4 linked regions of the Homo sapiens genome follow. The protein of the gene in region 1 interacts with the protein of each later gene in a biochemical or structural test. Each region holds a gene or a part of one and is shown on either strand. Other genes may lie near its edges.

Region 1 (7,025 bases):
TTTGGCTTGACTGGTTCTTGTGATGCCCACCTCTGACTCCTAATGATAATGGCCCCCAAGCCTGTGCTATCACCTGTCTTAGAATTTTGCCAGGTATCGGCCTTAATGTTTGACACAGGAATCATCTTAGGATTAAATTTCAGATTTTTCATCTGCAGTAGTGACCACATTGATCTTAGTTTTAATATTTTTGAGACCGCCTCTCATAGCATTTTTAATGTTGAGACCACCTCTTTGAGCATTTTTTTAAGGTCACATATATATCGAAATCTAAACTATTTTGTAAAGCCCATGTAATTGTTAAGTGCCTTGTTAGCATATTTTTCTTAATTCATGTTTCAAGTAAATGGACTTATTTGGCTGTTGACACGTTTTCCTTTTCTTTTCTAATAGTCATACCCATCTAATTACATGGAATCCATGAAGCCTAACAAGTATGGGGTCATCTACTCCACACCATTGCCTGAGAAGTTCTTTCAGACCCCAGAAGGTCTGTCGCACGGAATACAGATGGAGCCAGTGGACCTCACGGTGAACAAGCGGAGTTCACCCCCTTCGGCTGGGAATTCGCCCTCCTCTCTGAAGTTCCCGTCCTCACACCGGAGAGCCTCGCCTGGGTTGAGCATGCCTTCTTCCAGCCCACCGATAAAAAAATACTCACCCCCTTCTCCAGGCGTGCAGCCCTTCGGCGTGCCGCTGTCCATGCCACCAGTGATGGCAGCTGCCCTCTCGCGGCATGGAATACGGAGCCCGGGGATCCTGCCCGTCATCCAGCCGGTGGTGGTGCAGCCCGTCCCCTTTATGTACACAAGTCACCTCCAGCAGCCTCTCATGGTCTCCTTATCGGAGGAGATGGAAAATTCCAGTAGTAGCATGCAAGGTAAATTCCGCCACTGCTCCATGCTGCTGCACTTGCTTAGCGTACTGGCGCTTCACCAGATGGGGTGGGTGAGGAAGCATGGGGGCAAGAGCTGTTGAACTCTTCAAAGGAAATACTCATCTGCCTAAGGCATTTCCTTCCCCCGCCCCCCCAAAGTGTTGATACTGGAAGAGATCCCAAGAATCAGGCTGTCTGTTTGATACCATGACATGATTACTTTCACTATGTAATGGTCAACTTGGGGATAGAAAGAATCTTGACTTTATGTTGCTTTCTTGAATACCAACATGGTTCTAGGTACAAAAGGCATTTAATAAATCCTTTTTGATTGTGGTGAAAACTAATGGTGATCAAAAGCTACCTTGTTTATCAGCTGGTCATAGAGGACTAAGGGGTTGAAAGGAAATAATCCAGAATTATAAGAACGAATCATTTCAGGGCTGGTGTCTTATAATCTAGGTCCCTATATTTGCTGCTTACTGGCAAAATAATGGTCAGGAGAGGTGAGAATCTCCCACAGATTTGTTCCTGCTATAGTCTGCCAAAGGCAAATAAACCTGTCATATCTGTGTTGTAGGTAGGAGCTATGCAGTAAGCTTTTAAAAGCTGAAATTGGTAAACTGTACGTGAAGTGACTTTTCTATTTTTATTTTTTAGTACCTGTAATTGAATCATATGAGAAGCCTATATCACAGAAAAAAATTAAAATAGAACCTGGGATCGAACCACAGAGGACAGATTATTATCCTGAAGAAATGTCACCCCCCTTAATGAACTCAGTGTCCCCCCCGCAAGCATTGTTGCAAGAGTAAGTATATTTAGGTCTACCCAGCATTTGCATAGTAGTGTGCATCTTGGAACCTGGAGCAGAAGCACAAGATTTCACACGTGTGATGTGGTGTGGATGACCAGGAACGGCTTGTGATCTGTGGCCGCCACTGGTCCAGTACCACTGGTCAAGATGGGAGAATCTCTCCAAAAACAATATGCTGTTACACTGACAACGTTATGACAAAAGTTACATCAAGTTTTCATGGAATCAGTCATCCATGATTTTGCACCTTACCACATGAATTATTTTTGTTTTTTTTCCATTCTTCCAGGCTATGTATACTTAGTTTTTCCATTATGAGAATCCTTGTATAGATTAAACTTGGTGTTCTGTGGATCATGTAAAGTTTTCATGTGGACACACATAGTCCTTACAGAGTGTATAGTATCCTGTAGAATTGCTATCCAGTAGGAAGGCTGTGCAGTGTTGGTCAGCATCCAAGCACCTGAATGGTGGTTTCTTGTAGGTCTAACATGGTATAATGTGGTAGTTGCCACACACAGCTTCAGTAACCTCATTTGTGGGATCCTGCTGTAGATAACCTTGACCTCCACCAGTGATTACACTGAAGGCTGGGTTTGTAGTTGCTAAGAAGATGGTTTTCGGGTCCAACAAGGATCCCACCTCTGCTCTCTGCCATATGTATGATCTTGGACTAGTCACTTAATCTTGCTGCCCCATTTCTGTTTTCATTATTGATTGTAGTTGTGATTGTCTTGTGTTATGGTGCTTCAGCATTGGATTCAGCAGCCAGCTTCCTAGTACGAAGGCAACGATTACCTCCACAGGGTCCCTTCCATTGTCCTCCTGCATCATTTTCCTCCAACTTGAATAAATGTTCTACCCACCTTTCTCCTTTATTTTCTCTACCCCCTGTACCCCGCTCCCTCTCACAATTAACTCTACAGCAGAATGTGAATTCTCTGATTTTAGAATAACTATTTTATGGTAACTTCAAATATATCCTAGTTGTATCCACATTCAGCTTGGGTAGGTACCTTCATAGTAGCTCATGGATTAATTGTCCACTGCACCCAATCATAGTCATTTTTGGTTTGGGTTGTCATATGCTCCCCAATAGATGAAGAAGAGAATAACTCTTAGCCGACTTCATCAGCAGGTAGGGAGAGAGTCTCTGATGGAGTTATATTTCATTATTCCTCACAATTGCATAGTGCCCTCTTACCTCAAAAAAAACCTTCCCAGGTGTTTTCAAAGGAATTATTTTATTCCTCCACAACAAGCCTGTGGGAGTCGGAGCAAAAGGCAAAGTGATTACCTGAGACATTAGATAACTCGCCAATATTCACCCTGCTAACAACTGAGGGGCCTTGGGCTTGATCTCCTGCTTCCGAATCAGGGCTTTTCCTGCCATCTTGTCATATCCAACCCATTGCATCTGCTCATGCACTCAAGTGAAAGGAAAAAATGACTAGGCAAAATGGACACATCTTAGAGGTGGAATTAACTCTTTTTTTATGTTGAGGGATGTTTCTGGCAAGGTAACTAGCAACGTGGCCTGCACTTATAGTTGTTCCTGCATGGGTGATGAAAGAGATGCTATAAAACTAAATAAAACCAACTGCCTCCAAGGGAGGGATCCGTTGACTGGACAAGTGTTATTCCAAAGTCTGGGTTATTATGAGTTGCAACGTAAAACATTACATAAGAAGATTTGAAGGCAATATTCTGTGCTCTGAATGCTGCTCAAAAGAAAATACTTTTATTTTAAGTAATATTCTTTTGATGATCTCAAGCTCAGTGGCTTTTAATGATTAATGAGTAATATGCTTATTTTAATGCTGACCTAAGAATACATTCTGCTTCTCAAAAAAACGCAACAGATTAGCCACAGCTGGGACATGTACTCTTTAAGTAATGTTCTCACAGATGTGATTAAGTAACGTCTTGGAGTATGCCCAGTAGCAGCCCACGTAGGAAACCAGCTAGCCAGGAAAGAATCACTTGAAACTAGGCACCCAGTACCACTGCAGTGAGGCAGCCCCAATAATATTTGCCTTAAGAAACGCTTCCTTTCCAGAGGCAGACTTAAAAGTACAGCTTTGAAATCCATTTGCTCGATTGTGGTGTGGCAACTTTAGGATTATTTATAAAGGCACTCAAAGGTACATCAAATTCTATTTGTTACAGATTTACAAAAAGATTTCTTTGTTCTAAATATACAAAACTATATTTAGAACAAAAAGCATAAGGATCAGATTTCCCTATTGAGTTGTGTATGCGAATTATAGCAAACTTAAGAGGGGCTGTCTCAGCTCAAAACAGTGGACAAGATATCTTATATGTATTAGCTCTGTAACTTCTTGGTTATAATAATCCCAAACCATCTCTTTGAAAATGGGAGTGGAGACCAAAAAGTGTGAGATCCCAAGACTCTTCATCTAGCCTTGGCCTGAACCAACATCAGCGTCTTCAGAGATGCGGCAGGTTAACTGTGCTCAGAATGTTTGAGGGACACAGCTCAAGCAGAGATATCCTGGTTTGGGGACATCCTCAAAAAACTCATGAAATTAAACAACCATAGGGTACAAAGTTACAAATAGACTATTTTGAACCTGAAAATATTCATGGCTACCATTTATAGCTTTATCTTGGGAACAGACATTGTTCCGAGATATAACCTTCTGAGATAACATTATTATCATCCCCAGTTTACAGAGAGGAAACTAAGACACAGAGAGGGCGAGATCTTGGCCCAGGATCACAGAGACTGTCAGTGACAGAGCTGGATTTGTAACTGGAGCCCACAGCCTTTCGGTGCACCTTTATGTGTAAAATAAACAACTGGAAAGGGCAGTCAGAATTACTGCACAGAAACGATTAGATTCCCAACCCATAAAATCCAATAATTGGGAGAGATTTCTAAAGTTATCTGAAAAAGATAGTCTCCCAGTATCCCAAAGACATATAAAAGTTTTATAGTTAATAATTAAATTTCTACCCCAGCACTTTATTTCCTGAATTTCTTTTAATGGAAATGAAATATTTTCATTAGATGGCATTAAAGCTGAAAGTTAAAAATAAACTGAACTTTTTTCTTTCTATTGAAGGATTTTAAATGAATAATTCAGCCTTATAAAAACTCTGTCTGTAAACCTCTCACTTTGCTGTGTTCTCTGCTGTTTGCACATATATATATATGTATATATATACACATATATATACACGTATATATATATGTACATATATATACATATATATATACGTGTATATATATGTGTATATATATACATATATATAATTGAAGTCATTTTTCTTTTCTCCCTCCTCACTACTTTATGTTCACTTTTCCATGTATCTAAACTTGGCCTATTTTATCCATCTCTACCACCCTTCCAGGTATTAGAGTAGGAAGGTGAGAGTCAAAACTGACAGTTTCCTTTGCTCATAATAAAGCATGAGCAGTAAATAAATAATGTTTTTTTTAAAAAAAAAAAGCATGAGAAGTAAGGTCACTTAAGAAACACACCTTTTATTCTTTTTCTAGTCACTTCTTAGCATGCCTGAAAAAGTGATTGACAAGGGATGTGTATTCAAATATTTACCAAGACAAGTTTTATACCAAGAGACTCCCTTTTGATTTTTATGGATAAATTTCTTTTATTCTTTTTTTAAGCTCACGAGTTAGAGTGTTTACTCTCATCAAATTCTTTTTTTCCTTTTCACACACCTTTTTTCTCCTCAAACACTTAGGCAAAATATTCCTGTATTATATGGAACATTTTAGGAGCTATAGATTCAAATATGAAAGAGAAAGAAGTCTTTCATTACAGTTAGAGGCCAATGACATACACTTGTGATATATCAAGTAATTAGTCATTAGGAAAGTGAATGAGCAGATTAGAACATTATAATTACTTACATTAATCAGCAGGGGAAGCCTGAGGAACTTAACAGACTTTTCCCAGCTCTTCCTCCATCTCCCTTTTCTCTCCACCACCTTCTTGCTGAAAAAAAGCTTAGATTGTAAGATTTTTAACAGGATTTGGTTTCTAATCCACCCAGGGAAGGTGCAAACTCAGGAATGAGAGAGAAATCAGGAAGGTAGGGAGAACGTCAGGCATGCCATGGGGGAGCCGGCACCACGTGAGCCAGCATCATGGGTGACCACAACACTACATTGAAATTCTCCCTCATACAGGAATCACAGTGACAGTGGAGGTTTGAGTTTGTGAAGACAGCAATGCCAACTTTTTTGTTGTTTTTTGGAAGAGCTGGCATTTGAAAATTGCACATGAATTGGCAGTCTCTAAGGGACTCCAATTAAATGCCAATTACATAAAGGATAAAAACGTAGATATACCCTACAATGTGGTTTCCTGAGACTTAGGAGTTTGATCTTTTCCATTTTTCCCTAGCCAACAATAATGAAAATCAGAGCAGCCTGTGAAAAAATATAGTGTTCAGCATTGCCTAGAACCACAAGATTCTATAAGTAGGCAGAAGTTGACTGAGGAAAAGAGCCTCCCCAGCACTTGGTGCCTGCCTCTAGCATAGCACTTAACCCTTCTTACTGTCATTACTTATCTCCATGTCTGTCTCCCCCTAGAGTGTGAGCTCCTCGAGGGCAGGAACCCTGTTTTTATTCATCTTTGTGTCCCGGTGCCAAGCACAGTGCCTGGCTCATGGTAGGTGCTCACTCAATGTTTGTTGAATGAATATAGCAGTGCTTCTTGGGTTGATCAGCTAATTTCTTTTTGTTTATTTTGTTGGGATTTTTTGTTTGTTTGTTTTTGCCCAGTGTTGTTAATGCTTTTAGTAGACTGATGAAAAAGGAAGAGCGTGCTCTCAACATTTGGCCTGTAACCTTGGCTTTCACAGGAATCACCCTTCGGTCATCGTGCAGCCTGGGAAGAGACCTTTACCTGTGGAATCCCCGGATACTCAAAGGAAGCGGAGGATACACAGATGTGATTATGATGGATGCAACAAAGTGTACACTAAAAGCTCCCACTTGAAAGCACACAGAAGAACACACACAGGTAATAGAAACACCAGACCCACTTCATCTTTCTTCTTAAGAAGTATTAGAATGGAATGCAAAGGTTGTTACGATCAAAGTTTTCAGGCATCTTGAAAGTCACCACAGTCATCTCCAGATGTGTCTTCTCCAGATTAGTTGTGCAGAATGAAGATATTGCTAATGATTTGCCTTTGTAATAAGTTAGAATAGATTCAAAGTAATCCCCAAAACAAGGCCACTCACAATCACTTGCAGTTCTGTGCTCTCTAGCAAAGGAGGGAGAAAGGGTTGGAGCCTTCGCCGCTGGAATGGGGGAAGTGCTTTCACAG
Region 2 (7,809 bases), on another chromosome or scaffold:
TTTTTTGTTTAAGAGTAGTAGACAGTAGTAGTAGTACTCAGTAGTAGTTTAAGAGCTGGGTAATTTGATTACCTGAGCTGGTAAAATTGATTTTGCAATTCTCATCAAGTACAGGCACTTTCAATACTTCTTGATTGTTTATATATGCATTTATGAGTGGATTTTTGGTGTTCCTCCTTGTGGATATAAATTTGTGTTTTCCAGACTACACATGTATGATTTTTGTGGTTCATTTGGAAAAAGGAAAGATCCCAGGGCATGGTGCAGTAGATACTTGCAGTTTTGCAGGCCTGCTTTCTGGGGTCAGGAGGTCATCTGTCTCTTTTGCATTTAGTTTTTAAATATTGATATTGGTGATGCAGCCAGGGTGTGTAGAATAGTTGAACCTTCTTGCAAACCACATGCAAGAGCCAAAAAAAAAAAAAAAAAAAAAAAAAGGCATCGAGTGTATTGGAAATGACAGCTTTGTTAAGTTCCAAGAAATCTTTCATGAAACTGCCCAGGATTTGCAACCTGTCGCTGCAATTTCTTTAGGAAGGAAAAGGTTAAAAGAAAAACAATATTAGATACTTGAGATGTCAAGCTCCTCTCTGGAGATCCGTAGTGAAAGGCTCAAATGTGGTAGCGTTGCTTATTTCAAATATACAACTGGGTTTTGAAAAATCCAGTGAGCTGAAGCACTGGCATTCTATTTAGAAATCAATAAACTTTCTGTTAGTTAGAAAGGAAACTTTTTTTTTTCCCTTATAAGGCAGCAAGGAGATCTAGGGAGGAGATCTTTAAGAATACTGAAATAACAGAGTTTCCTGTTGCTGAGAGAATCATTCACTTCTTTCTGCCTCCTCAGCCAGGTTTTGGGGTGAATGAAAGTGGCCTGTCACACCAGTGCTTTTAACCCTCTCAGTGTGGGAGGGAGAGATGAAGAGTTTAGGATTGGTAAGTACCAAAGTTTAAGAAGTGTTTGGCCCATTTTGATACTATCAGAAGCTTTTCAGAGATATTTCCACTCTTAATACCACGACACAGACGTGCTAGAAAAAATGGAAAGTGAATACAATGCAGGCACTTTCTCAGTTCCTCCTTCTACCTGGGATTTAAAAGATTGAGATTTTCAAACCAAAGGTGGTGGACAAGTGTTGTGTTAAGAGAAGCCAGGCATCCCATGCACCGAAATCCACCAGTCCCTCTTTCCAAACAACTCCCTAGAGTTCTTCCAGGGAAGGCCTGCAATGACCTTGGCATTGGCTGGACAAGAAGAAGTGTTTTGGGGGGTGTCAGCCATTCTCCACATGGCTGCAAGGCCTGAGAAGACAGTCAAAGCCATAGAAACTGAGCACCCCCATAAACCTTCTTTTTCAGGAAGTCTCTGTTGCTCACTCTTCATTCCTTTTTGGTTTTCCTCGCCTCACCATACTCCTATCTCATTTTCCTTTTTCTGGGAAACAAATCAAAACCAAAAACTATCAAGCATCCTCTATGGTCATCAAAGTGCAACCAGCCATAAGCACCCTCAAACGTGGGGCAATTGAAAGAGATTTGAACCCCTAAGTGATGGGCCTGGGAGGCCCCAGACGTCTTCACTTCTCTGGGGTCTTACCTGGATCTGACGCTGCTTCTTCGCCCTTGGTGTTGCTGAAGCTTTTGTGGGCTCTTCTGTGTAATACTTGTCAATTTTTCGTTTTTCTTTTTTAAGCTTGTGAAAAACTTTTGGATGCAACCTAGTTTTGGTGGCAGAAGGAAATGGTTTCTGTTGGGAAAGGGAAACTAATAAAGGGAGGAGGGGTAGCGATGTCGGGAGACACTTGCCCAGGGCTCAGCCCTGGGCCTCTTTTTGCCAGGGGACAACGGCTGGTTCTGGGCTCTCAGGCTGAAAGGAGTGCTCTCTGGGTGCCAGGATTTCACTGGGGGTGGTGTGGTGAGGAGGGAGGGAAGAAGGGAGGGAGGGAGAGAAGGAGAGATGGGCGCTCGATTTTTAAAGAGACCCCGAAATAATGGCTTCTATGAGAGTCCAGGCATTCAAAGAGGTGTGTTCAAGGATATTAGTGCATTCCTGCCAAGGGGAATGTCTTTTATGGTAAATTAACTCCAGTTAAATTGAATATTTGTTCAAAGGGAAACTGCAGTAGTTAAAGCTGGTATTATCAGTAGAGCTTCCCCACCCCCTCCCCTCAGAATCTGGTGAGGGTGAGAAAGGGGATGCAGTGTAATGTGCAATACAAAGTGATGCTTTCGTGCTGGTGGTTTCTCTGTGTGTGTGTGTCTGTGTGTGTTTAATCTAAGATGAGGTTGCCTAAAATTTCTGAGAGAAATGAGTATTTACTTGGATTAACCCTGTCACCTCATTTCTTTCATCCATAAAGACTGCCAACTTTATCCCAGCTTTTCAAAAAGAAGAAATGACCCGCACAAAGGAAATTAACGTTGTCAGAACGCTGACTCCAGGATTTGCCGGGGCAGGGGCGGGGACCGCAGGGAGGCCGCTCCCAGGGCGTGTGGCCGAAAGGGTTAACTCGCAGGGGTCCGCGCGATCTCCCCGACTTTACCTGTCTTCCTAGTCCCAGCAGCCCCCGTCCCCGGCCTCCCGAACTCCCCACCCCCCAGCGCCTTTCTTCTTTGGGCTCTGGGTTTACGGGGGCTGCAGCTGGTAAACTTGGCAAGCTCGCCTCATTAAGAGCGCTCTTTGAAAACGGACTGTGTTTGAGCATTTCCCTAATGAGGACAGGACGGGGTTAAAAAGTGACCATTTCATGGTTGACTTGAACCTGCCTACTTTTCTTGATGTGTCGTTGTGAAATGCTTGATGTGGATAACTCCCACTTGGTGAAGGAAAAAGTCACTGGTTCCTCCAGGTCCGCTGGGGGAGGGAAGAGGGGACGGTGGACAGAAACCAGAGGGAGTGAGAGGGGCTAAAGTTGAGGGGACAGATCACGAGCTGGGAAGCGGTGGAAAGAGGACCGGGGAATCGGGGGCGAGCCTCGAAACGCCCCAGCAGTACCCGTGGAAGCGGGGCGGCCCCGCCCTGGGGATGGGCCCGCGAGGACCCGGTAGCCCCAGCGCCCCCCGGATCCCCCAGCTAGGTAGACTCGGAGCCCCAGGCGCTCACTTTTCCTCCCTCCATTGTCTGGGAGGCCTTTGCTTCCCCCTCGTCCCCATCCACCCCAAGCAGAAAACTGGATTTGGGGGGCGGTGTGTGTATGTGGGCGGGGGGTGCAGAAAGGGTGCAAGGCGAACCGCCTTCTTCAAAATCCCTGGAATCAAGTTCATTCACTCGGAGCCTGCACGGGCGACGGGGTGGGGGCGGGGCAGCGCCGCGGTGGGGAGCCGGCGCGGGCGCCGAGCGGCTCAGGGCCCGCAGCCTCTGGAGGGCTGCAGCGGCGCGCGCGCGCCCGCCGGCCCGCCCCGCAGCCCCGGGCGCGCCGCGGCCCCGCCCCGCCTGCACCCGGGCGGGTAGGGAGACGCTTTCCGCCGGCGCCCCGGGCCCCGGGGGGTGGGGATTGGGAGCCAGCCAGCGGGGCTGCAGGAGGAGGAGGAGGAGAGCGAAGCCGGGCGCGGGGAGGAGGTGGAGGGAGCAAGAGGCGGCGGCGGCGGCTCGGCCCGGTCCTCCCGCTCAGAGCGAGGCCACGTGCACGGGGCACCCCCGGGGAGGGCGGCAAACCGCGGCGAAGCGCCGCGCGCCGCGACTGCCTCGGGTGCGGGCCCCTGGTGGGCAGACCCGGGACGAACCCGCACCCCCTCCCTATCCGCGAACCCGGGCTCCGGGCGGGGCCGTCGGGGGCTGGGCGCCGCACCCCCCTGGTCCACGCCGGCGCGCCCCAACTACTTGAGCCCAAGTTCGCTCAGGTCCCCGCCTGCTCGGCCTCCCCCTTTTCCCGGCAGCCGCAGGCTCCGCGGACTGAGCCCGCCCCGGGTGCGAGTGTCCGCGCCCCAGCCCCGGCCTGGGGGCGGCCTGGGTGTGAGGGAATTTTCCACTCGTTCCTTTCTCGGGCTCAGACGGTTTCGGTGCTTCTCCCACTCGGATGTTCCCGCGGCTTAAAAGAGTCCGCAGCGAGCACCGAAATACCTCTTCCAGGGCGGGTTTTCGGGGGTGTGTATGTGTGTGCTGGTGTGGGGAGGGCAGCGGAAAGAAGAGCTATTTTGGAAAAAAAAAAAAAGTCATGGTTCTGTAGCACCGGTAGGATACCTTTAACAAATGAGGGAGAGGTGGGGGGAGAGAAGGAGAAGGAGGAGGAGGAGGAAGGTGGGGGGGCGGGGGGTGTGGAGAGGCTGGTGCAAAAGGAATGCGCGTTTGCAGGAGGAGGAGTAAAGCGATGATTGTGTAATTAAATAATAAAACAATCCTTAAGTCTGATTTGGAGAGAGCTCGAGCGGGGTCCAGAGGGTGGAACCGGTGAATTTTTCAACTTCCAAGTTTTGCAACGAAAGAAAGCAAGAGAGGGAGGGAAAAAAAAGAGCCTAGAGCAGAAAAGAGAGGAGTTTGGAGCCGAGCGGGAGAGCGGGATTTATCGTTTGGAATTTTTCAGGAGATCGTTTTGATACCCCTGGGCTCTGGGCAGCGGCGGCAACAGCAGCCTCCACGCTCGGCCGGGTCAGACGCGGGGCGAGGCGGGCGGGCGGGCGGCCGGGCGCCGAAGACCCGGCGCGGGCGGCGGCGGCTGCTGCTGCCGGGGACCACGCGCCGCGAGCCTCTTCCGCCCCAGAGATCAGCGCTCGCGCCCCCTCCCTCACCCCGGCCTCTCCCTTCTCCCCCATCCCACCCCGCCCCCACCCCGGCCCTCTCCCGCGCGCGCCCCGCCACCCGCGCGCACTCGCTCACGCTGCCCCTCGCGCACACACATGGTCGGCTCGCGGCAAAGTTTCGCCTGCGATCACCACTCCGGGATCCTGCCGCAGTGCTTGGGGCTGTAACCTTGAACTTTCCCAGCGCGGTGACACATTCTCCCCGCTCTCCCTCCCGCCCGCCCGCTCGCCCTCCTGCGCCCTCCCGCGCCCCCCTCCCCGCCTTTTTTGAAAAAGCATTTTACCACCAACCACCACCCCAATCCAACCCACACCGAACCTTCGCGCACCCCCTACACCCCAACAACAACAACAACTGCAAAATAGAAAACAAATCCCCAAACCCAGGCGAAAAGCAGCCAACACCGGCGGCGGCGGCGGCCTCGGCAAGCACGGCCAGCGCGCTCGGACTGCAAGAGGGTTAAAAGTGTAGATTGGATTTCACCCCTGGAAATCTAGCACGCCGAGTGAACTTGAATCTTTGGCTATTTAAGGAGGACTGGGTTTGTTGTGAAGTTGCGGTGATCCAGCGCAGAGCCCCGTCCTGATTGATCGCATCGCGGGGCTCAGATGACTGTAAAATGAATAGATGAAATTCTTGCTTCTCGAAGATTTTCTTGGGCATCTCCCGGAAAGTGCGTTTTAAGGCGAAGTCATGATGTATTCTCCCATCTGTCTCACTCAGGTACATGTCTCGGTCGCTTTCTCGAGCTTTCTCTCTGGCCCGAAATGCCTTTGTTTTGTTTTGTTGCGGACAATTAGCGGCTTGAGTTAACCTCCGCACATCCCCGTCCCTTGGAGAAGTGGCCCGGAGTTGCAGCGGGCGTCGCGGGGCGGCGTGGGAGCCGGGAGCGGCCCCTCGCCACGGCCACTGCGAGCGCCCAGCCCCGCGCCCTGGGCACGGAGCGCGGGCGCTGGGCCGGGCAAGGCCGCCGGGGGGTGGGCAGGGCCGGGACCTGTAAGTGCGAGGCCCCGTGCGGCCCCTCAAGTGCCCGTTGTGGTGCGGCATCCCCGCCCGGGGTGCCCGTAGCCCCTCTCAGCAGCTCGCGCGTTGAGGTGGACTCGGGCTTTGGAGGACTTTACGGGGGACTAAGCTTTTAAAAACAGCCAGTGAACTTGGGCGAGGGGACTGTAGCACGAGTCTGTGTGGGCGCCGCTGGACTGCGCTGCAGGCGGTGGGCGGGCGACGAATCGAGTCGGAGGTTGTGGTCCGGGGACCCATTCCTTTGCTTTATTTGGGGATCTGAAACCCTGGTCCATAGTGACCTGCTGCACTTTGGGGTTTCTAGTGACCGCACCACAAAGGCAGTATTTACGTTGACACGAGTTAGTTGGTCTTGGTGATTGTTAAGGAGTTTTTAGAACGTGTTCCTTTTGTGGAAACCTGTTCATTTGACGATATTTGGGCGTAGCTCGTAAGGCATTTTAAGTAATGCTGGTAGAAGTAAGGTCATTTTTTTCGACTTTGAGAATTGTCCTAAGACCTTAGGAATAATGTTATGAAATAAAACACTGGTTTTATACTTTTTAGAAACACGATTTGTATCACTTTAAGCCAGACGGTCAAATAGAAAAGCGGCGAGACCCAACAGACTTACCTGGGGGCAGTTTTCATCGCTGCCCAGGGAACTAACAACTGACAAAGTAACTAAAATATCTTAGCCCAGAACTGTTATTTGAGGCAGTATTTTAAACCTCTAAAGGTATGGGGCAGCTTATTTCAGCTTTTCGGAAGATGTGTCACCATTGGTAATTGATAACTATTTTCTTTGACATTGCCATGAAAACTAGTCATATAAAGAAGTGTCAGCCAGTCTTGGGCGTGTTAAAATTTTAAAAACATCTAATATCACGATGATGCATTTTTATAATGGACAAATAATTAAGATTTCAATTGTATGACAATTAGAAGCCATTGTGATTCAAAAGGACTGAGGCATTCATAAATTGTGAATGAAGATGAAAACAATGATAAGGCTTATTCAGTGATTGGATACAGTCCTGTAGCTTTTTGGCTGACACATTTTTTATTGTTTATATTTTGTTTGGCATCTGAGTATGATTAACTTAGATATGGCTATTTTCAGCAAGTAAACACGCACTTTAATTTAACAAAACTGGAAAAATGAGTTGCTGAGCTATTTGTATTTTAAAAGCCATGAATGATAATAGCCAATAAATATGATGAAACTGTTTCAGGTATAACGAATTGCCTTTACTTGTAAAAGTTACCATTAATATTACCCATCGGCTGGATATATTTTTCTCTTTCTGATAAGCTGTGTTAACTTGATATTATTTTTACACCGTGATCAAATAAAACAAATCAAAGCAAGATTTTCACTTACAGAGTATAGCATCACTTATTCTCACCTGTAAAAGATTGAATAATTGTGCATTTCTCTATATTTCTAACATCAGCTTTTCAGAAACATTGCTAGCAATTACATTGCATTTTTAGTATCCTCCAAATATGTATTGAAAAGTCACTAGTTTTATCTTAATTTGTGTAAGTTAAAGATAATATTGCAGCATTGAGACAGGGAATGTTGGGATCATATACAGCATAATCATTCAGCTATCACATTAGTATTCAGAGATACACACTTAACAACAATAACTTGTGATGACTAATATTCTCTACTATTTTAATAATATAAATCTAGGCTTATGTATTAAAACAAGGCCTACACCAGGGAAGGAATTTCAGCTTAAGAATTTTCACTTCACTAAGCTCCATGTGACTTTGCAGGTAATATAGGTGTTATAAAAGTGAGGCCACATTAATAGTGTCACTTTTGTATCAGATCAGTAGTTTTGTATCACAAGAGCCTAGTAGCTGTAGAAAAACATGTCTCAGGACATGTAAATTGCAAAATAGAGTATCATTCTTAATTGGTTATAAACTTTTAAAAGTATCTCAATTGTTGCAATAAGGTATCTAGGTTTTAGAAAAAAAATCTTAATTTAAAAGGACCTACCATTAAATGTTATGTTTAGCAAAATAGTATGCTACAAAATCAGCATATCAAT
Region 3 (6,753 bases), on another chromosome or scaffold:
TAAAAAATTTTACACCTATCTGGCATCATAGGATTTATCAGTTATCAGACACCTCATTGTACCAGAGATTGTCCAGAAGTTTTAAAGACCTTTGCATCCCTGAACTGGGCTATGGGAAATAATAATAGTAATAATAATAATAATAATAATGATGAAACCAATACTGACACAAATGCTGGTGCCCATTCAGATCAAGGGTACTTGTTAGGGAAAAAAAAAAAAGTTTGCACCCCCAAACGTCCTGTATCTTATGAAAAAAAAAACAAAAAACAAAAACAAAAAAAAAACACAAAAAACCACAGAAACAAAAACAAAAAAAAGTGCAAGTGATTTTTCTACCAGACAGCGAAGCACCCCTTTGCTTCCCATGCGACTTCAAGAAGGTTTCCTATACTATACATATATATACGTTCTGGTTGGCAAGCCCTGCTGATCAGAGAAAGTCTCTGCATGTTCTAGTGTTAGTAACTAATTTTTATATAGTTAATGTAGGATAAAGTAGAGTGCATTAAGACACAATATTGTAATCCCTACTCTAGGCACTTGCCTTTAAACTATGTTTTTCAGCCCTTCAGAAGGGTTCTACTACTGTCCTATACAATCAAGTAACTGAAATTCTTGGGAAGACACTTTGCTCCTCATCTTTCTCCCCGAAACAATGTTGTTTTGTTTTGTTTTTTTTCCTTAATTTGCACGAAAACAAAAATTCCATATCAATGTGCCTTGCCCTGGATAGCGATTATTTGTGGAATTGTTGCACATGCTCCTCTATTGAAAGGGGTTTTTCCCTAGTCAAGCATTTGGAGACACTTTTTGTAAATGTGACTTTTATGTCAGCCATCGTCAGTTTCAACATCTAGAACTAAATAGAAAGCTAGTTGTTCCGCAGATAGGAGTAGTCTTTATTGTCCTGTACGGTCGGTGGCAGTGCTATTCTGAGATCTGTAGATGCTTAGAATATCAGTATTTTGGATGTTGCTGCATTTTACAATTTATTTGGAGTCTTCCTTTATTTTCCCCCAGATATATGAAAATATGCAATACCTGCTTATATCATGTAGAAAAGCTTAGCAATTATTAATTTTTCTTTTATTTTTTTTTATTTGACCAAAGTCGGTGCTGCACTTGACGCAGTGTGTTTTAGGTGTTTGTCTTTGTACTTTTTTGTGATTTTTGAATGCACGTGCGCAGGAAGGGCTCCTCTTAGAGAAGCAGTCAAACTGTGAAGCACTAAGCTGACCCTGCTTCAAGCAATTTTGTTTTTACAACTGTTCCTTTCACAAGCAAGCCTTAAAAAAAAAAAAGACAACTTCCTTTTTCTTCAGCTCCCACACCCCATTTTTCTTAGCAGACTGCAGTCAATCCACATTCAATAAAAAGTATATAATGCCCATTTTTATATGCACGTTTTTAAACTTCCAAGTTCTGAAAATTGTTTACTGGTTATCTCTATTTAAGGAAAAAAAAATAAAATAAAACATTTTGGATTTTCATATGTGTCTGATAAGTGGTTGAATAGTCGTTTGGCGCTGTTGTATGGTGTGATTGTCAGTGTATGGTGTCACTTCCTATAGCCAGCCAGCATACTTTGCCTTCCCCTATAGCACTTAGCTGGGCATTACTTTATTATGACATATGTGCACTAAAAAATGAAAAAAAGGAAAAAAAGAAAAAAAAAAAGAAAAAATAGCAGCTTTCAGTGCTTCACAGTGAAGGGAAAAAAGCCTAGACAAACATTTTGTCAGAACCTTGCAATAAGCCAAGGTATTACCAGTAAATTGGTTGTATATACAATAAAATTGCACCCTTTTTTAAACAAAACAAACTAAGCAATAGTTTGGGCAGTTTTAGTTGTTTTTAGTGAGCATGTTGTAGTCATGACTGCAAAGAGAGAGAATAAACTGCCCGCTCAGAAGATATGTAATTTGTATTGTTGTATAGTTTTATTGATTACACTGATTTATTCTACCCTATTTTATAATGCAGGACTTTTGTAATGTTGTTTAAATGAGGAAAAATTTCTGTCAAATTAGCCTAGTAAAATTTCTGATCGTTCATTATAAAGGCAGCGTTCATAGAATTGCTTTTCTTTCTTTTTACCCCCCCTTTGGGAACTGGATTTAAGTTTAAAACTTTCCTGTTTCCTTTTTTTTTTTTTTTTTGTAAGTATTTAAATACAATTATTTTTTTCTCTCAATGGTATAGCATATTCCTATGCTTGAGAAGTATAGGTCTACTGAAAAACCATTGTAAATGGACGTTACAGGTATGCTGTATTTTTGAAGGTATTTTGTTGTATTAAGTTTGATGAAGCTAAAATTAGGGAACTCTGAACAGATTTGCAGGAAAAAATGTTTTAAAGGCTTTAAAACATTAGGGAGGCAGTCTAGGGTGATAACGAACAGGGGTTAAGTATTAAATACACGAAGTTACATTTTTGTTCATGTTTCATTGTCCAGAAAGCAGCAGGAAACTATTCAGTTGTGATCAAGCAGGAAAAAAGAAACACCAACAGTTGCCAGTGTTTTTGCTTTTTAGCTTAAAAGCATAGTGAAGATGCTTGAGGAAGACTTTGCTACCTGGGGTGTGTAGACAGACAGACTGAGAGCTATCAGCATTTGAAGGCCCAGCCCTTGACTCTGAGACACATTTGAATTTTTTCTTTCCCATCAAATGGCATTAACAAGATTGGGCAAAGATGAGTCCCTCAAATTTCTGTGTTTTTTGTTTGTTTGTTTGTTTGTTTTTTCTTTGGGAACTGAAGTCAGAGGCACGAACACTAACTCTTAGCATTTTTCTGTAGACTTTTTCTTCTGGCCCTTGTCCCTGCCAGCAAAACGCCCCTTTTCTGATCATTCGTGCGCAGAGGGCCTCCCAGTAATGCCACGCTCTCCATGCTAGAGAGCCTTCTCTTTCCTCTGAGGTTTGAACTGATGTTCTGTGTCTTCACACCCTGGCATGACAGTTACGTGTGGTCAGCCCGCTCCCCAGGCCCGTCCCTGCCGCCGCCAGGTGTGGGCTCTAGGCAGGCCGACAAGGTTACACCTCCCAGAGCTTGTGATCTTCATTTTCTGACAGTCAAAGTGTGAAGGAACCCAGACTTCCCCGAGCCACGGTGTTCAGTCAGCCCACAGGAATATGCAAGACCCATCTCCAAAAGTTTGTCTTTGATTTTTTCCAAGCCCTTAGCCCCATAAGCTTTGAATCCTGTAGTTACAGTGGCATAAAGGACTGACAAAACCTGGATAAGGAAAAACCTTTTTTTTCTATGAATTTTTTTTGTTTTTTAGGGGAAAGGGATTCTAAGAATGTCATTTAATGTACTTTGCATCATGTCTCTAGAAATATCTTTGTCCATAGTGGTGGTGGAGTCTCTCTCTCTCTCTCTCTTTTTGTTTGCTTCTGTTTTCTTTCTTGTCTTCATTCTTTCTTTTCTTTTTTATTTCTGGTAGCAGGCCTCCATAGAACAAATCTAAAACACAACCACCATAGTAATGTAAGGAGAGCTTCAGTGGCACCTCAAAACCCACCCTTCGAGATCTGTCCAAAGACAGTCTCAGAAAGCTGCACTGCCCACCGGCTCAGCTTTCATTCAAAAAGGCTTCCAAGGCCAATTCTGTCTTGAAGTCAATGCATGTATTTACTGTTTGACAGTAAACCCGCTCTGCCTTCTCCACGTCCAAGGCTGTGCATTCGTCTAATTAGCGTCGTGTATGTTTTCCTTTTATTTTTTCCAATAAAAAAGCAGTGGGATGAAAATTGCTTTGATATATAGCAGGTAACATTGAAGCTATTCCATAGCACTTAACTGTAGTGAATACTGTGTCACCAATTTTGAAATCAATTTAATGTTTAATGCAAATCCATTACATGGTGCTATTATAGGCTGACAAAATGATTTACACAAATGTGACAACTTGGGCTCAATTCACTCTGCTTTCCAACAGTGTAAATGCATAGCAGTGTTTATCTGCATGAGAACTATGCACTAATCTATCTGAAGAAAAAAACTATATCAACTTTGGTATCTACTTTCCGTTTACTTCAATCCTTGCCTTTTTGGTCATTGTTATAATGCCAGCTTTAGGACAGAAAGAATTATAAGAAAACCAGCATAATACCTGATATATTAAAATGTAGTGCCTGTGAAATCTGTATTATATTGCTCTTCTGAAGTAAGATTTTTCTACACCGGTAGCCTTCGCTGTCTGTCAGTCAGGACCTTCTGGTATAGGTGATGTAAAATAACCGTACAATATTAATGCATGCGATTCCATAATGCTTAGTGAACTGTATGAATATTACTCAAAGTTATGTTAGTCTTTTTTTCCGACTTGGTTCTTGTCAGCTAGGTTTAAAGGTATTTCACTGAGAACGCAAATTCTGTCTTTTCTTGATTTCGGCTGTTTTCAGTATTTTGGAGGTATACATTTACTTAAATTCAGTATTACTCGTGTTTTGTTTTTGTTTTTGTTTTTTGTTTTCTTTTTCCTAGGGGACAAGCATGGGTGTTTGATTTCAGAAATCAGTACCTGGCGAGATTTTTGTCTCAAAACGACTATTTGAATTTCAAGAACTGTGCTGCGAAGACACTCTGAGAACATTTGCAAGTCAGGGGCATTTTCCTTGACCCTTGACTGATGCTATGCGGAGACTGATACATTTTCTTAATGGACAATGTTCAAGCCAGGTACCCATGCTTGATCTGTCTTCACACCAGACCTCCTCATATTAAAAGGAAAAATAAGAAAAAAAATGTAAGAAATCACATGGCTATTTAGTTTCATGCACAGTTGCAATATTTTCTTCAAAAATAAAACTCTGTACAAACTTTGGGCCCGATTCATAAGAAAAAGAAGTTTGCTATTAACACGGGATTTTTTTAATATACTTTTTTTGGTCTAAATTTGAAATTACTTGCTTCCCAAATTAAATAAATTTCATCTCATTTTTTTCCCTAAACCAGCACCCATCTGCCTTTTATTCCCCAAAGAGTTACCTTTCCCAGATTAGGGGGATGGTATGTGGGGAGCAGATAGCGGAAATGCTTAGAAAGATAAGGGGGACCACCCACAGCTGGTCGTGAGAACAGGGAGACAGTGTGTGGGGGTGGGACCTCATCTGTGTGCCTGGTATCCTGAGTTTTACATGTAGATGCATTCGCCTATTTGATTCAGAAAAATAAACTTTCCCAAAATGTGTCTGAACCACAAGAGCATACAGTGGAAGTGCTACCTCTAATCTAACCAGAGCACCTTCATGGTGGAAGACACCCACCAGGTCATACAATGTGAACTTTTGTATCTCTGCAGTGGTTTCAAGGACAAATAGTGTCCAATGTATTGGGCCATTTTTCCTGCTGTTTTTATACTCAACTTCTCAAAATGAAAAAAGCTTTTATTTTTCCTTTGACTTATTTGTGTTGTTCTTATTTTTTAAATTTTTATTTTTTGATAATAGTCTGTAAGTTAGCCTTTTTGGGTTTTTTTTTTTTTTTTTTGGCTTTTTTTTTTGTTTGTTTTTTTTTCTTTTGACATTGCAACCGAAGGTCATAAGGCCGCTAGCTCCGCTGGGACAGAGGCTTGAGAGAACTAACGGCTCGGTGCCTTCTCCCTGGTCTCAGACCATCGTCTCTGCACTGCGAAGGCATTTGGTAGCCTCGCCACTGAGATACTAACTAGACCTAGACTAGGAGCTTTATCAGGTTCTAGGAGGTCCTTTAGGAAGACTCTCAAAGGCAAATCCCTGATCCCCCGCCCCACCCTTAGCCCTGCCCTCTCACCAGAGCAAAATTCACTGGGGACTTTTCCCACCACACATGGAAATCTGTCCACTCGGAATACCTCTGTTTTCCATTTCAAATTGTAGGGGGAGGGGATGGAACACTTCCAGTGATGGTAAGAGATCTGTTATGAAACGAAACACCCCCCGTGTTAATAACTTGGTCTGAAATCTGTTTTTATGAGCCGGGCCCCCTGTGCCTCTAGTATACTTGTATTGACTCTCATAGTTACCCTTTTAGTTTTACTGTGTTCTGTGAAAATTTGTAATTGGTTGAGAATCACTGTGGGCGTCCATTCTTATTCAACTAAATCTCCACAGGTTTTTTGAGCTGGTGTGGATTAGTTTAACTCTTGTATTCAACCATTAGTGCTACCACCTTCTCACATTACAATACAATTACTGGAAGCAAGTACTGCATTTCCTATGCAACAAAAAAGGAAAAATAAAAAATTGCTAATGCTATGGAAGCTGTGTCATCATTTGCTTTACAGCATGCCTGGGTGATTGAGTGACAGTCACGGGTGTGGACTGGAGGCTCCCACAGAAGATGGTCTTTATGCACCATGGGGTTTGTCAGGCACATAGCATCCTTGGCTGTGTTCTGATGGGCAGTGTTACTTTTTTCACCTACTTGGACAAATACAGGATTTGACACTCACATAGTGTTTACTGTGTGCCTGATATTGTTCTGAGTGCTGTATAGATTGTATCAGTTGGGGCCCAATCGGGAATCAGGAATAAGATTCAATGGGTTTTCCAACAGGGGCTGTAAAGTTGCCTAGGTATTAGTAACTGCAGGATACAGCCACTACCCCTGGAGCTGGGGAAACCGAAGGGAAAGGTGGGCTTACCAGAACCTAGGCACTCAAGGAGGGACACCACACAGCTGATATTTGGGTCTTTTCTGAGGGAGGTGGTCACCACAAAGGTGGGGACAGCACATGGCCAGTGGCCAGACCTCTGAGAAGA
Region 4 (7,025 bases), on another chromosome or scaffold:
CTGGCTAATTTTTATTTTTGCAGAGATGGAGTCTCACTCACTGTGTTGCCTTGGCCGGTCTCAAACTCCTGGGCTCAAGTGATCCTCCCACCTCGGCCTCCTAAGGCACTGGGATATTTTCTATTTTCTTTCCTTTTTTTTTTTTTTTTTTTTTTTTTTTTTTTGAGACAGTGTCTCACACTGTTGCCCAGGCTGGAGGGCGGTGGCATGATCTCAGCTCACTGCAACCTCCGCCTCCTGGGTTCAGGCGATTCTCATGTCTCAGCCTCCCGAGTAGCTGGGATTCCAGGTGCGCCACCATGCCCAGCTAATTTTTGTACTTTTAGTAGAGATGGGGGTCTTGCTATGTTGCCCAGGCTGGTCTCGAATTCCTGGGCTCAAGCGATCCTCCCGCCTCGGCCCCTCTAAGATGCTGGGGTATTTTCATTACTATGGACGCGATTGCTGCGATGATCATTTTGATTGCAGACAATCTTCCAGGAAGCAGGGAACAGCCTGAGGCCCCGCTCCGTGTTCTGTGGCATGGAAACTAAGGCTCAGAGAGGGGCGGAGACCTGGCTGAGGTCCCACAGGGTCTCAGGGCCGGTGTGAGGATAAGAATCAGGGCCCTGACCCCCTGGAAGGCCACGGGTCCCTTTCTCAGAACAGCCTGTTCTCTGTAAGATTGGGGTCTCAGGAAGGTAGGGAGACGTTGACCCTGGACTCCCACTGTGTGTGCCAGCGGATGTGGCTGGACTCGGTCCCATTTCCAGGCCGGGATGGGCAGAGCAGCTGCTGCCAGATCACCCTCCCTGCTCTGTGCTCCACGTCCCCTTGGGCCACCTCCGGCCGTGGGGTGCTTCGGGGGGAGGGGCAGGACATCAGATTTCACCTATTACTGAGGCTCTGAAAATAGCCTCCCCACCCAGTGAGACCAGAGTCAGCTTGTACCAGCGAAGCTCCCCCACCCCAATGTCCCCCAAAGCGTGAGTCACCGTAACAGCTGCGGCGGGGACCGGACCTCAGGGCCCTTTTCCGCTGCCCCCGCTTCCCCAGCCAACCTGCTAAGGCAAAGGGGAGGTGGAGGGGGCCCGGCCCAGGCCCTGTCCAATCTCGTCCCTGCCCCTGACTGGATGAGACCCAGAGATGGGGAGTGGTTTGTCCAGGGTCACACAGCCGGTCAGCAGAGCTGGGACCAGAGCCCAGATGGTCTGGCCAGGGAAGCCGGGCAGTGGGGGTGGTGGGGGGCACAGTGGGACGCGGCAGAGAGGACCCATAGAGGCGCAGGACCTGCCTGTGGAGGAGATGCCAGGCGGGCAGGAGGCCCGGACAATGTTGTCCAGCTGGGGCCGTGGCTGCCACCCAAGCTCTGGCGCTTACTGGGGCTGTGATAAGAGGCTGCTGGAAGGGACAGGGGAGGCATCCATGATGGGGGCAGGGATCACTGTCCCCCCAACTCCTTCTCTCCCCAACCCCCCTCTCTCTCTGAATTCCCCCTCCCCACTTCCCCTCTCCTCTTAATTCCTTTTCTCATCTGGCCCCTCGTAGATCTGAGTTCCCTTCCTCCTCCCTAACTGTCCCTCCCTTCTCTATGTTCCTCCCCTTCTCTGTGCCCTTTCCGGGGACAGGTGCCAGGGAGGCGGGCAGGGGTGGGGGCCCACGTCAGTGGTGACCCCGGCTAGTTACAGAGGCAGGAAGACAAACAGCTTGTAACTGGGTCATGGACCTGCTGCCCCATCCTCCCTTGTCCTCCCCAGGGGATCAGACCACGTGAGAGGCAGGGCCTGGTTGGCCGGTTGTCACTCTGTTTCTCCCACATGACCTGCAATAACCAGGGCCTCTTCCCCAGGGACCTCCTACTGCCCTCAGAGGCCCAACCGGCAAAAGAGATAACCAAGACAAGCTAGATGCTGAAAATCCTCCCAAACTCCTACACATCCCTCAACGCCCTATCTCTAGTGTCCCCTCCTTCAAGCAGCCTTTCCTCCTCAACCCAGGGTTTCCCAGATCTAGCCAGGACCATCCAGTTCTATCACCTCTCCCTCTCCAATCCTGAGGCCCAGAGTTGAGGCACCCACTGTCGGAGAAGGTGGCTGGGTGACAGTAAGGTCTATTTTCACCATCTGAATGGCTGGGGAACAGATCACCTCAGATAAGCCTCAGTCTCTCATTCTGTACAATGGGCAGAAAGGAATATTGCAGCCTGCTGGAGACAGGGGAGCTTGCCTGGTGACCTTGTTCCTTGCAAGGTGATGGGGAGAAGGGGAACAAGGCTAGGTCTTTCCTGGAAACCCCAGCTTAGCCCACTGGGACTTCCTGGCCAAAGAGAGCAGCAGCAGCTGGGAGAGACATCTGGACCCAAGACCTTGCTGAACGACCACGCCATGCACTGGGTGATGCCCTCACTCACCTCCCTGTGCTCCTCCCACCCTGAAAGTCCAGGCCAGCAAACCAGGACAAGAAACTCCAATTTCCAAACCAAAAGTTTCCAGGTAAAAGTGACTCAACAATCCTTCATGAGAATCTAGCTCATTACCTACTTAGCACTTATCCCAAATTCCTACGCATCCTTCAAAGCCTTAGTTCTAATGCCTTCTTCTCCGGGTCGGATGACTTGTCCATGGTCCCACGGACAACCCCAGGCCCATCCGGCACCAGCGTCAGGCTCTAACCTTGGGCCGCTCCTTCCCCTGGCTCAGAAAATCACAGCCTGTGGACATGTGAACGGCTCCCAGAGAGGGAAGATTCATTCTGTTGCTCAGCAAACATTTAGTGAGTGCCTGCTGCATGCCGGTCCCAGGTAGGGTGCCGAGGACTTGGCAGGGACCTGGGCTCGGCCCTCACCTGGATCCAGATCTGGGGCAGGGACGGATGGTTAAAATCAGCAAAATATGTAATAAAACGTCAAGTTGGGCAAAGTGCTCTGAAGAAATTTAAGAGTTTGAGGGACCAGAGAATCTCTGGGGTGGGGGGTGTTTTTTAGCTTGGGGGGGGGGTCCAGGAAGGTCTCTTGCAGGAGGAGACACCTGAACAAAGTCTTGAGAGATGGCACTCCAGGCCAGGAGCTTTCTGATGGAGAAATGGGTCATGCAAAGGCCCTGGGGCAGGACCGCACCTGGCGTGTTAGAGGAACAGCGAGGAGGCCCATGTGGCTGGAGCAGAATGAGCAAGGGGGAAAGAGAGAGGAGGGGAGGGTTGAGGAGGGGACAAGGACAGGCTGGGCAGGGCCTTGTGGGCCACAGTGAGGAATTTGGGTAAACTGAGTCCACAGGGTTCAAACTCTCTGCCAAGGCAGTGAGTCAGCAAAATGAACCCTGGGTCCCCTACTTCCCTCTGTGCCTTGATGTTCTGGGAGGACAATGAGGGCTGAGCCAGAGGGGCCAGGAGGTGGAGGAGAGAGGCAGGGAGCGAGGCTGTGCCTCTTACAGGCTGAGCGTTTGCTGAGCTATCACGTCTACTACGAAATAGGGGCCGGGCGCGGTGGCTCACACCTGTAATCCCAGCACTTTGGGAGGCCGAGGCGGGCGGATCACCTGAGGTCAGGAGTTCAAGACCAGCCTGGCCAACATGGTGAAACCCCATCTCTACTAAAAACACCAAAATTAGCCAGGTGCGGTGACACACACCTGCAATCCCATCTACTTGGGAAGCTGAGGCGGGAAAATCGCTTGAACCCGGGAGGCGGAGGTTGCAGTGAGCCCAGATTGTGCTACTGCACTCTAGTCTGGGCGACAGAGCGAGACTCTGTTTCAAAAAAAAAAAAAGTCTACTATGAAAGTGGGGACTATCATTGCACCCACTACCTCGAGGAGGAGACTGAGGCATGAAATCTTCCACCAAAGTCACACAGTCAGGGAGGAACTGAGCTGGGACTGGTCCCTGGGCCTCCTGGCACCCCCCCACCCCACTCCTGGGCCCCTTGAGCAAACAGTCTCGGGCCAGAGCGTCCAGTGACACCTGGTCTGCACCGTGCACACTCTCCGAGTCCCACGTGGTTCCCTTCCCCTTGTTTGATCCCCGAGGTCGGTCGCACACCACATCCTCAAGGAGTCCTGGTCACCTCGTTTCCTGCCCGTCCCCGACCCGGCCTAGACTGTCGGTCCCACAAGGGCACAGCTTTGATCTGTTAGCATCTCCAGCATCCAGACCACTGAAGCAATGCTCCCATCTTCTGCCTCTGGGACCCCCCTTATCCATGCACCCCCATGTGTAAGGAAGGCTGGTACCCACACAGGGCTGGTCAAACTCAGGGAGACCCTGGACAGGGCTGGGCAGGGAGAAAAGACTAACAGAGGCCGGGCACGGTGGCTCATGCCTGTAATCCCAGCACTTTGGGAGGCCGAGGCAGGTGGATCACCTGAGGTCAGGAGTTTGAGACCAGCCTGGCCAACATGGTGAAACCCCGTCTCTACTAAAAATACAAAAGTTAGCCAGGCGTGGTGGCACGTGCCTGTAATTCCAGCTACTTGGGAGGCTGAGGTAGGAGAATCGCGTGAACCCAGGAGGCGGAGGTTGCAGTGAGCTGAGATCACGCCACTGCACTCCAGCCTGGGCGACAGTGCAAGACTCCGAGAGAGAGAGAGAGAGAGAGAGAGAGAGAGAGAGAGAGAGAGAGGGAGAGAGAGGGAGAGAGAGAGAAAGAGAAGGAAAGAAGGAAGGAGGGAGGGAGGGAGGGAAGGAAGGAAGGAAGGAAGGAAGGAAGGAAGGAAGGAAGGAAGGAAGGAAGGAAGGAGAGAGAAAGAAAAAAGAAAGAAAAGAAAAACTAACAGAAATGCCACAGTAGAGAGGGGTCTGAGCCTGGGCCTTTCCAGGTCACCACTGTCCTTGTCACCCAGCCCAAAGCTGGGCTTACGCTGCGCAAATACACACAGAGGGAAGGGAGGGAAACTGGAAAATGCCTCTGGGGTGTTCAATGCAATTACTAGTTTAGCAACAACCATAAGCACAGCAGCACTTATTTGGCACCTACTGTATACCAGGTGTCGGACTAAGGTACATCGATGTCTCTGAGGAAAGTGCCATTATGTTTTTTATTTTATGTTGGCGGAGAAATGGAGGCTCGGGAAGACCAAAGTCCCGCCTCTCAACCAAAAACATTCATTCATTCATTCATTCATTCATTCATTCGTGCAACAGGTATTTATTGGGCACCTACTGAGTACCAAGCCCTGCACTGTGGACCTCAGAAATGTCCTGCCTCCCCGGAGGCTGCAGTGAGCCAAGATCGCACCGCTGCACTCCAGCCTGGGCGACAGAGCGAGACTCTACCTCAAAAAAAAAAAAAAAAAAAAATTGTGCTGCCTCCCTGAATCTGCAGCAGCCCTGAGGAAGTGGGGGTTTCTGCTGACTTCATTTCAGGGCAAGAAACGGTCCGGGGGTGGGGGCAGGTCACCCACCAGAGTCAGGAAAGAGGAGAATTAGTTTAGCAACAATCACAAGCACAGCAACACTTATTTGGCACCACTCTATAGCAGTTATTTGGCACCTTCTCTATACCAGGTACTATATTGGGTTTGGCACCTCCTGAGCAAGATTTTCAGGCAGATGTGAGGGGCACTCTAGGTCTGTGTGTTGGTGACCCCCATCAAGGCAGATCCGAGGCAGGCAGAGCTGTGTCCTCGTCCGTATGGGTGTCAGGGAGTGTGCACGCGTGTGCGCCCAGCGTGTGCTCATGGATGTGAACTGGTCAGGACTTGGGTGCCCGCACGCTGTGTGCTCAGGGCAGATGGGCACCCAGGTGAGGTCGGCGTGGACACAGGCAGGAGAGTGGGGGGCGGGCCGTGTCCGGGGCAGGAGGCCCAGGCAGCATTTCCCATCCATTTGGTGTGAGACAGGGAGGGAGGCCAGCTCAGAGAGACAGAGAGAGAGAAAGAAGAGGAGGAACAGAGAGAGAGGAAGGGAGGGAGAAAGAAAGAGACAGACAGAGAGAAAGAAGAGGAACAGAGAGGGAGGTAGGGAGGGAGAAAGAGAGAGAGAAGAGAGAAGGAGAGAGGGAGAGAAGGGAGACGGGGAGAGAGAGAGAAAGGAAGAGGGAAAGACGGAAAGGGAGACAGAGAAGGAGAGAGGGAGAGAGGAGGAGAGAGCGAGATGGGGGGAGAAAGGGAGGGAGACAGAGAGAGAGAGAGAGAGAGAGGAGAACGCTGACTCTGCCAGAATCCCAGCTTTGGTGATTTACAGGGCGCTTGGCCCTGGCGCGCAGAGGCACCTCCGCCGCAGAGAGGGGAGGGGGAGAAACAGAGAGAGATGCACAGAGAGACCCAGAGGGAGATACAGCGGGAGAGTGGTGGAGCCTTGTAGAGAGTGAATCAGAGGCCACCAGGCCCCGGGTGGGGGGCACACGGGGAGAGAGCGCCCACCTGCCCAAGCCGCCAGATGGAAAATGGCCTGAACCCCAGCTCTGCCAGCCCCACTGTGCCACCTCGGGCAGGCCCTGGCCCTCTCTGACTCTTAGCCCCTCTCCCGGCACTGAGGGGCTGCAGGCCCCCTGCTCCTGGTAGGCACCCCCCAAGCTCCCTCTAAGAACCTACACTGGGCCTGGGCCCTGCTGCCTCCCCCACCCCCACCTATCCCCAGGGCCCAGGAGATGCTTAAGGAAGATCTAGAAAATCCAACAAAGGTCGGGGGTCTGGGGTGGGAGGACAGCCTCTCCCAGCCTCGGTTACCCTGCTGGAGAAATGGCAGCAAAGCACATTGTGCTCCGAGAGGGCATGGGACGAACGAATGAAGGAAACAACGAACGAATGAGACAGGGACCCGGTGGCGGGATGGAGGTGGCTCGGGGAATCCGCCACGCTGCGGCCAAGAGGGACTTGGCCCCAAACCCGGAATAACTAACGTGGCGGTGGCGCCAGCGGGAGGGAGGCAGGGAGGGAGGCCCAGAGCAGGCGCGGGGAGGCCGGCCTTCCCGCCGGCAGGATTTATGGGAGCCATGGGCTCCACACAGTTCCTCTTAAGAGTAAAAGTGAAAAAGCGCTTGAGTCACCGCTGAGCCCGGCCCGGGGCTCCCAGAATGCCCCAGGGCCGCCAGCACCCACTCCCCACTCGGC

What was found.
Region 2: the proteins of KLF3 (region 1) and NFIB form a complex in vitro, tested with the Homo sapiens proteins (one study listed by BioGRID).
Region 3: the proteins of KLF3 (region 1) and NFIA form a complex in vitro, tested with the Homo sapiens proteins (one study listed by BioGRID).
Region 4: the proteins of KLF3 (region 1) and NFIC form a complex in vitro, tested with the Homo sapiens proteins (one study listed by BioGRID).

Annotation. Positions count from the first base shown.
Region 1 is NC_000004.12:38,688,192-38,695,216, forward strand, and holds part of KLF3 (Krueppel-like factor 3), read left to right. Parts: intron 1-393; coding exon 394-880; intron 881-1,537; coding exon 1,538-1,688; intron 1,689-6,282; exon of another isoform or gene 6,283-6,361; intron 6,362-6,554; coding exon 6,555-6,715; exon of another isoform or gene 6,716-6,716; intron 6,717-7,025. UniProt on the Homo sapiens protein: Binds to the CACCC box of erythroid cell-expressed genes. May play a role in hematopoiesis.
Region 2 is NC_000009.12:14,311,134-14,318,942, reverse strand, and holds the start of NFIB (nuclear factor 1 B-type), read left to right. Parts: upstream 1-4,801; 5' UTR 4,802-5,431; coding exon 5,432-5,461; intron 5,462-7,809.
Region 3 is NC_000001.11:61,456,543-61,463,295, forward strand, and holds the end of NFIA (nuclear factor 1 A-type), read left to right. Parts: 3' UTR 1-6,246; downstream 6,247-6,753.
Region 4 is NC_000019.10:3,369,568-3,376,592, reverse strand, and holds part of NFIC (nuclear factor 1 C-type), read right to left. Parts: intron 1-7,025.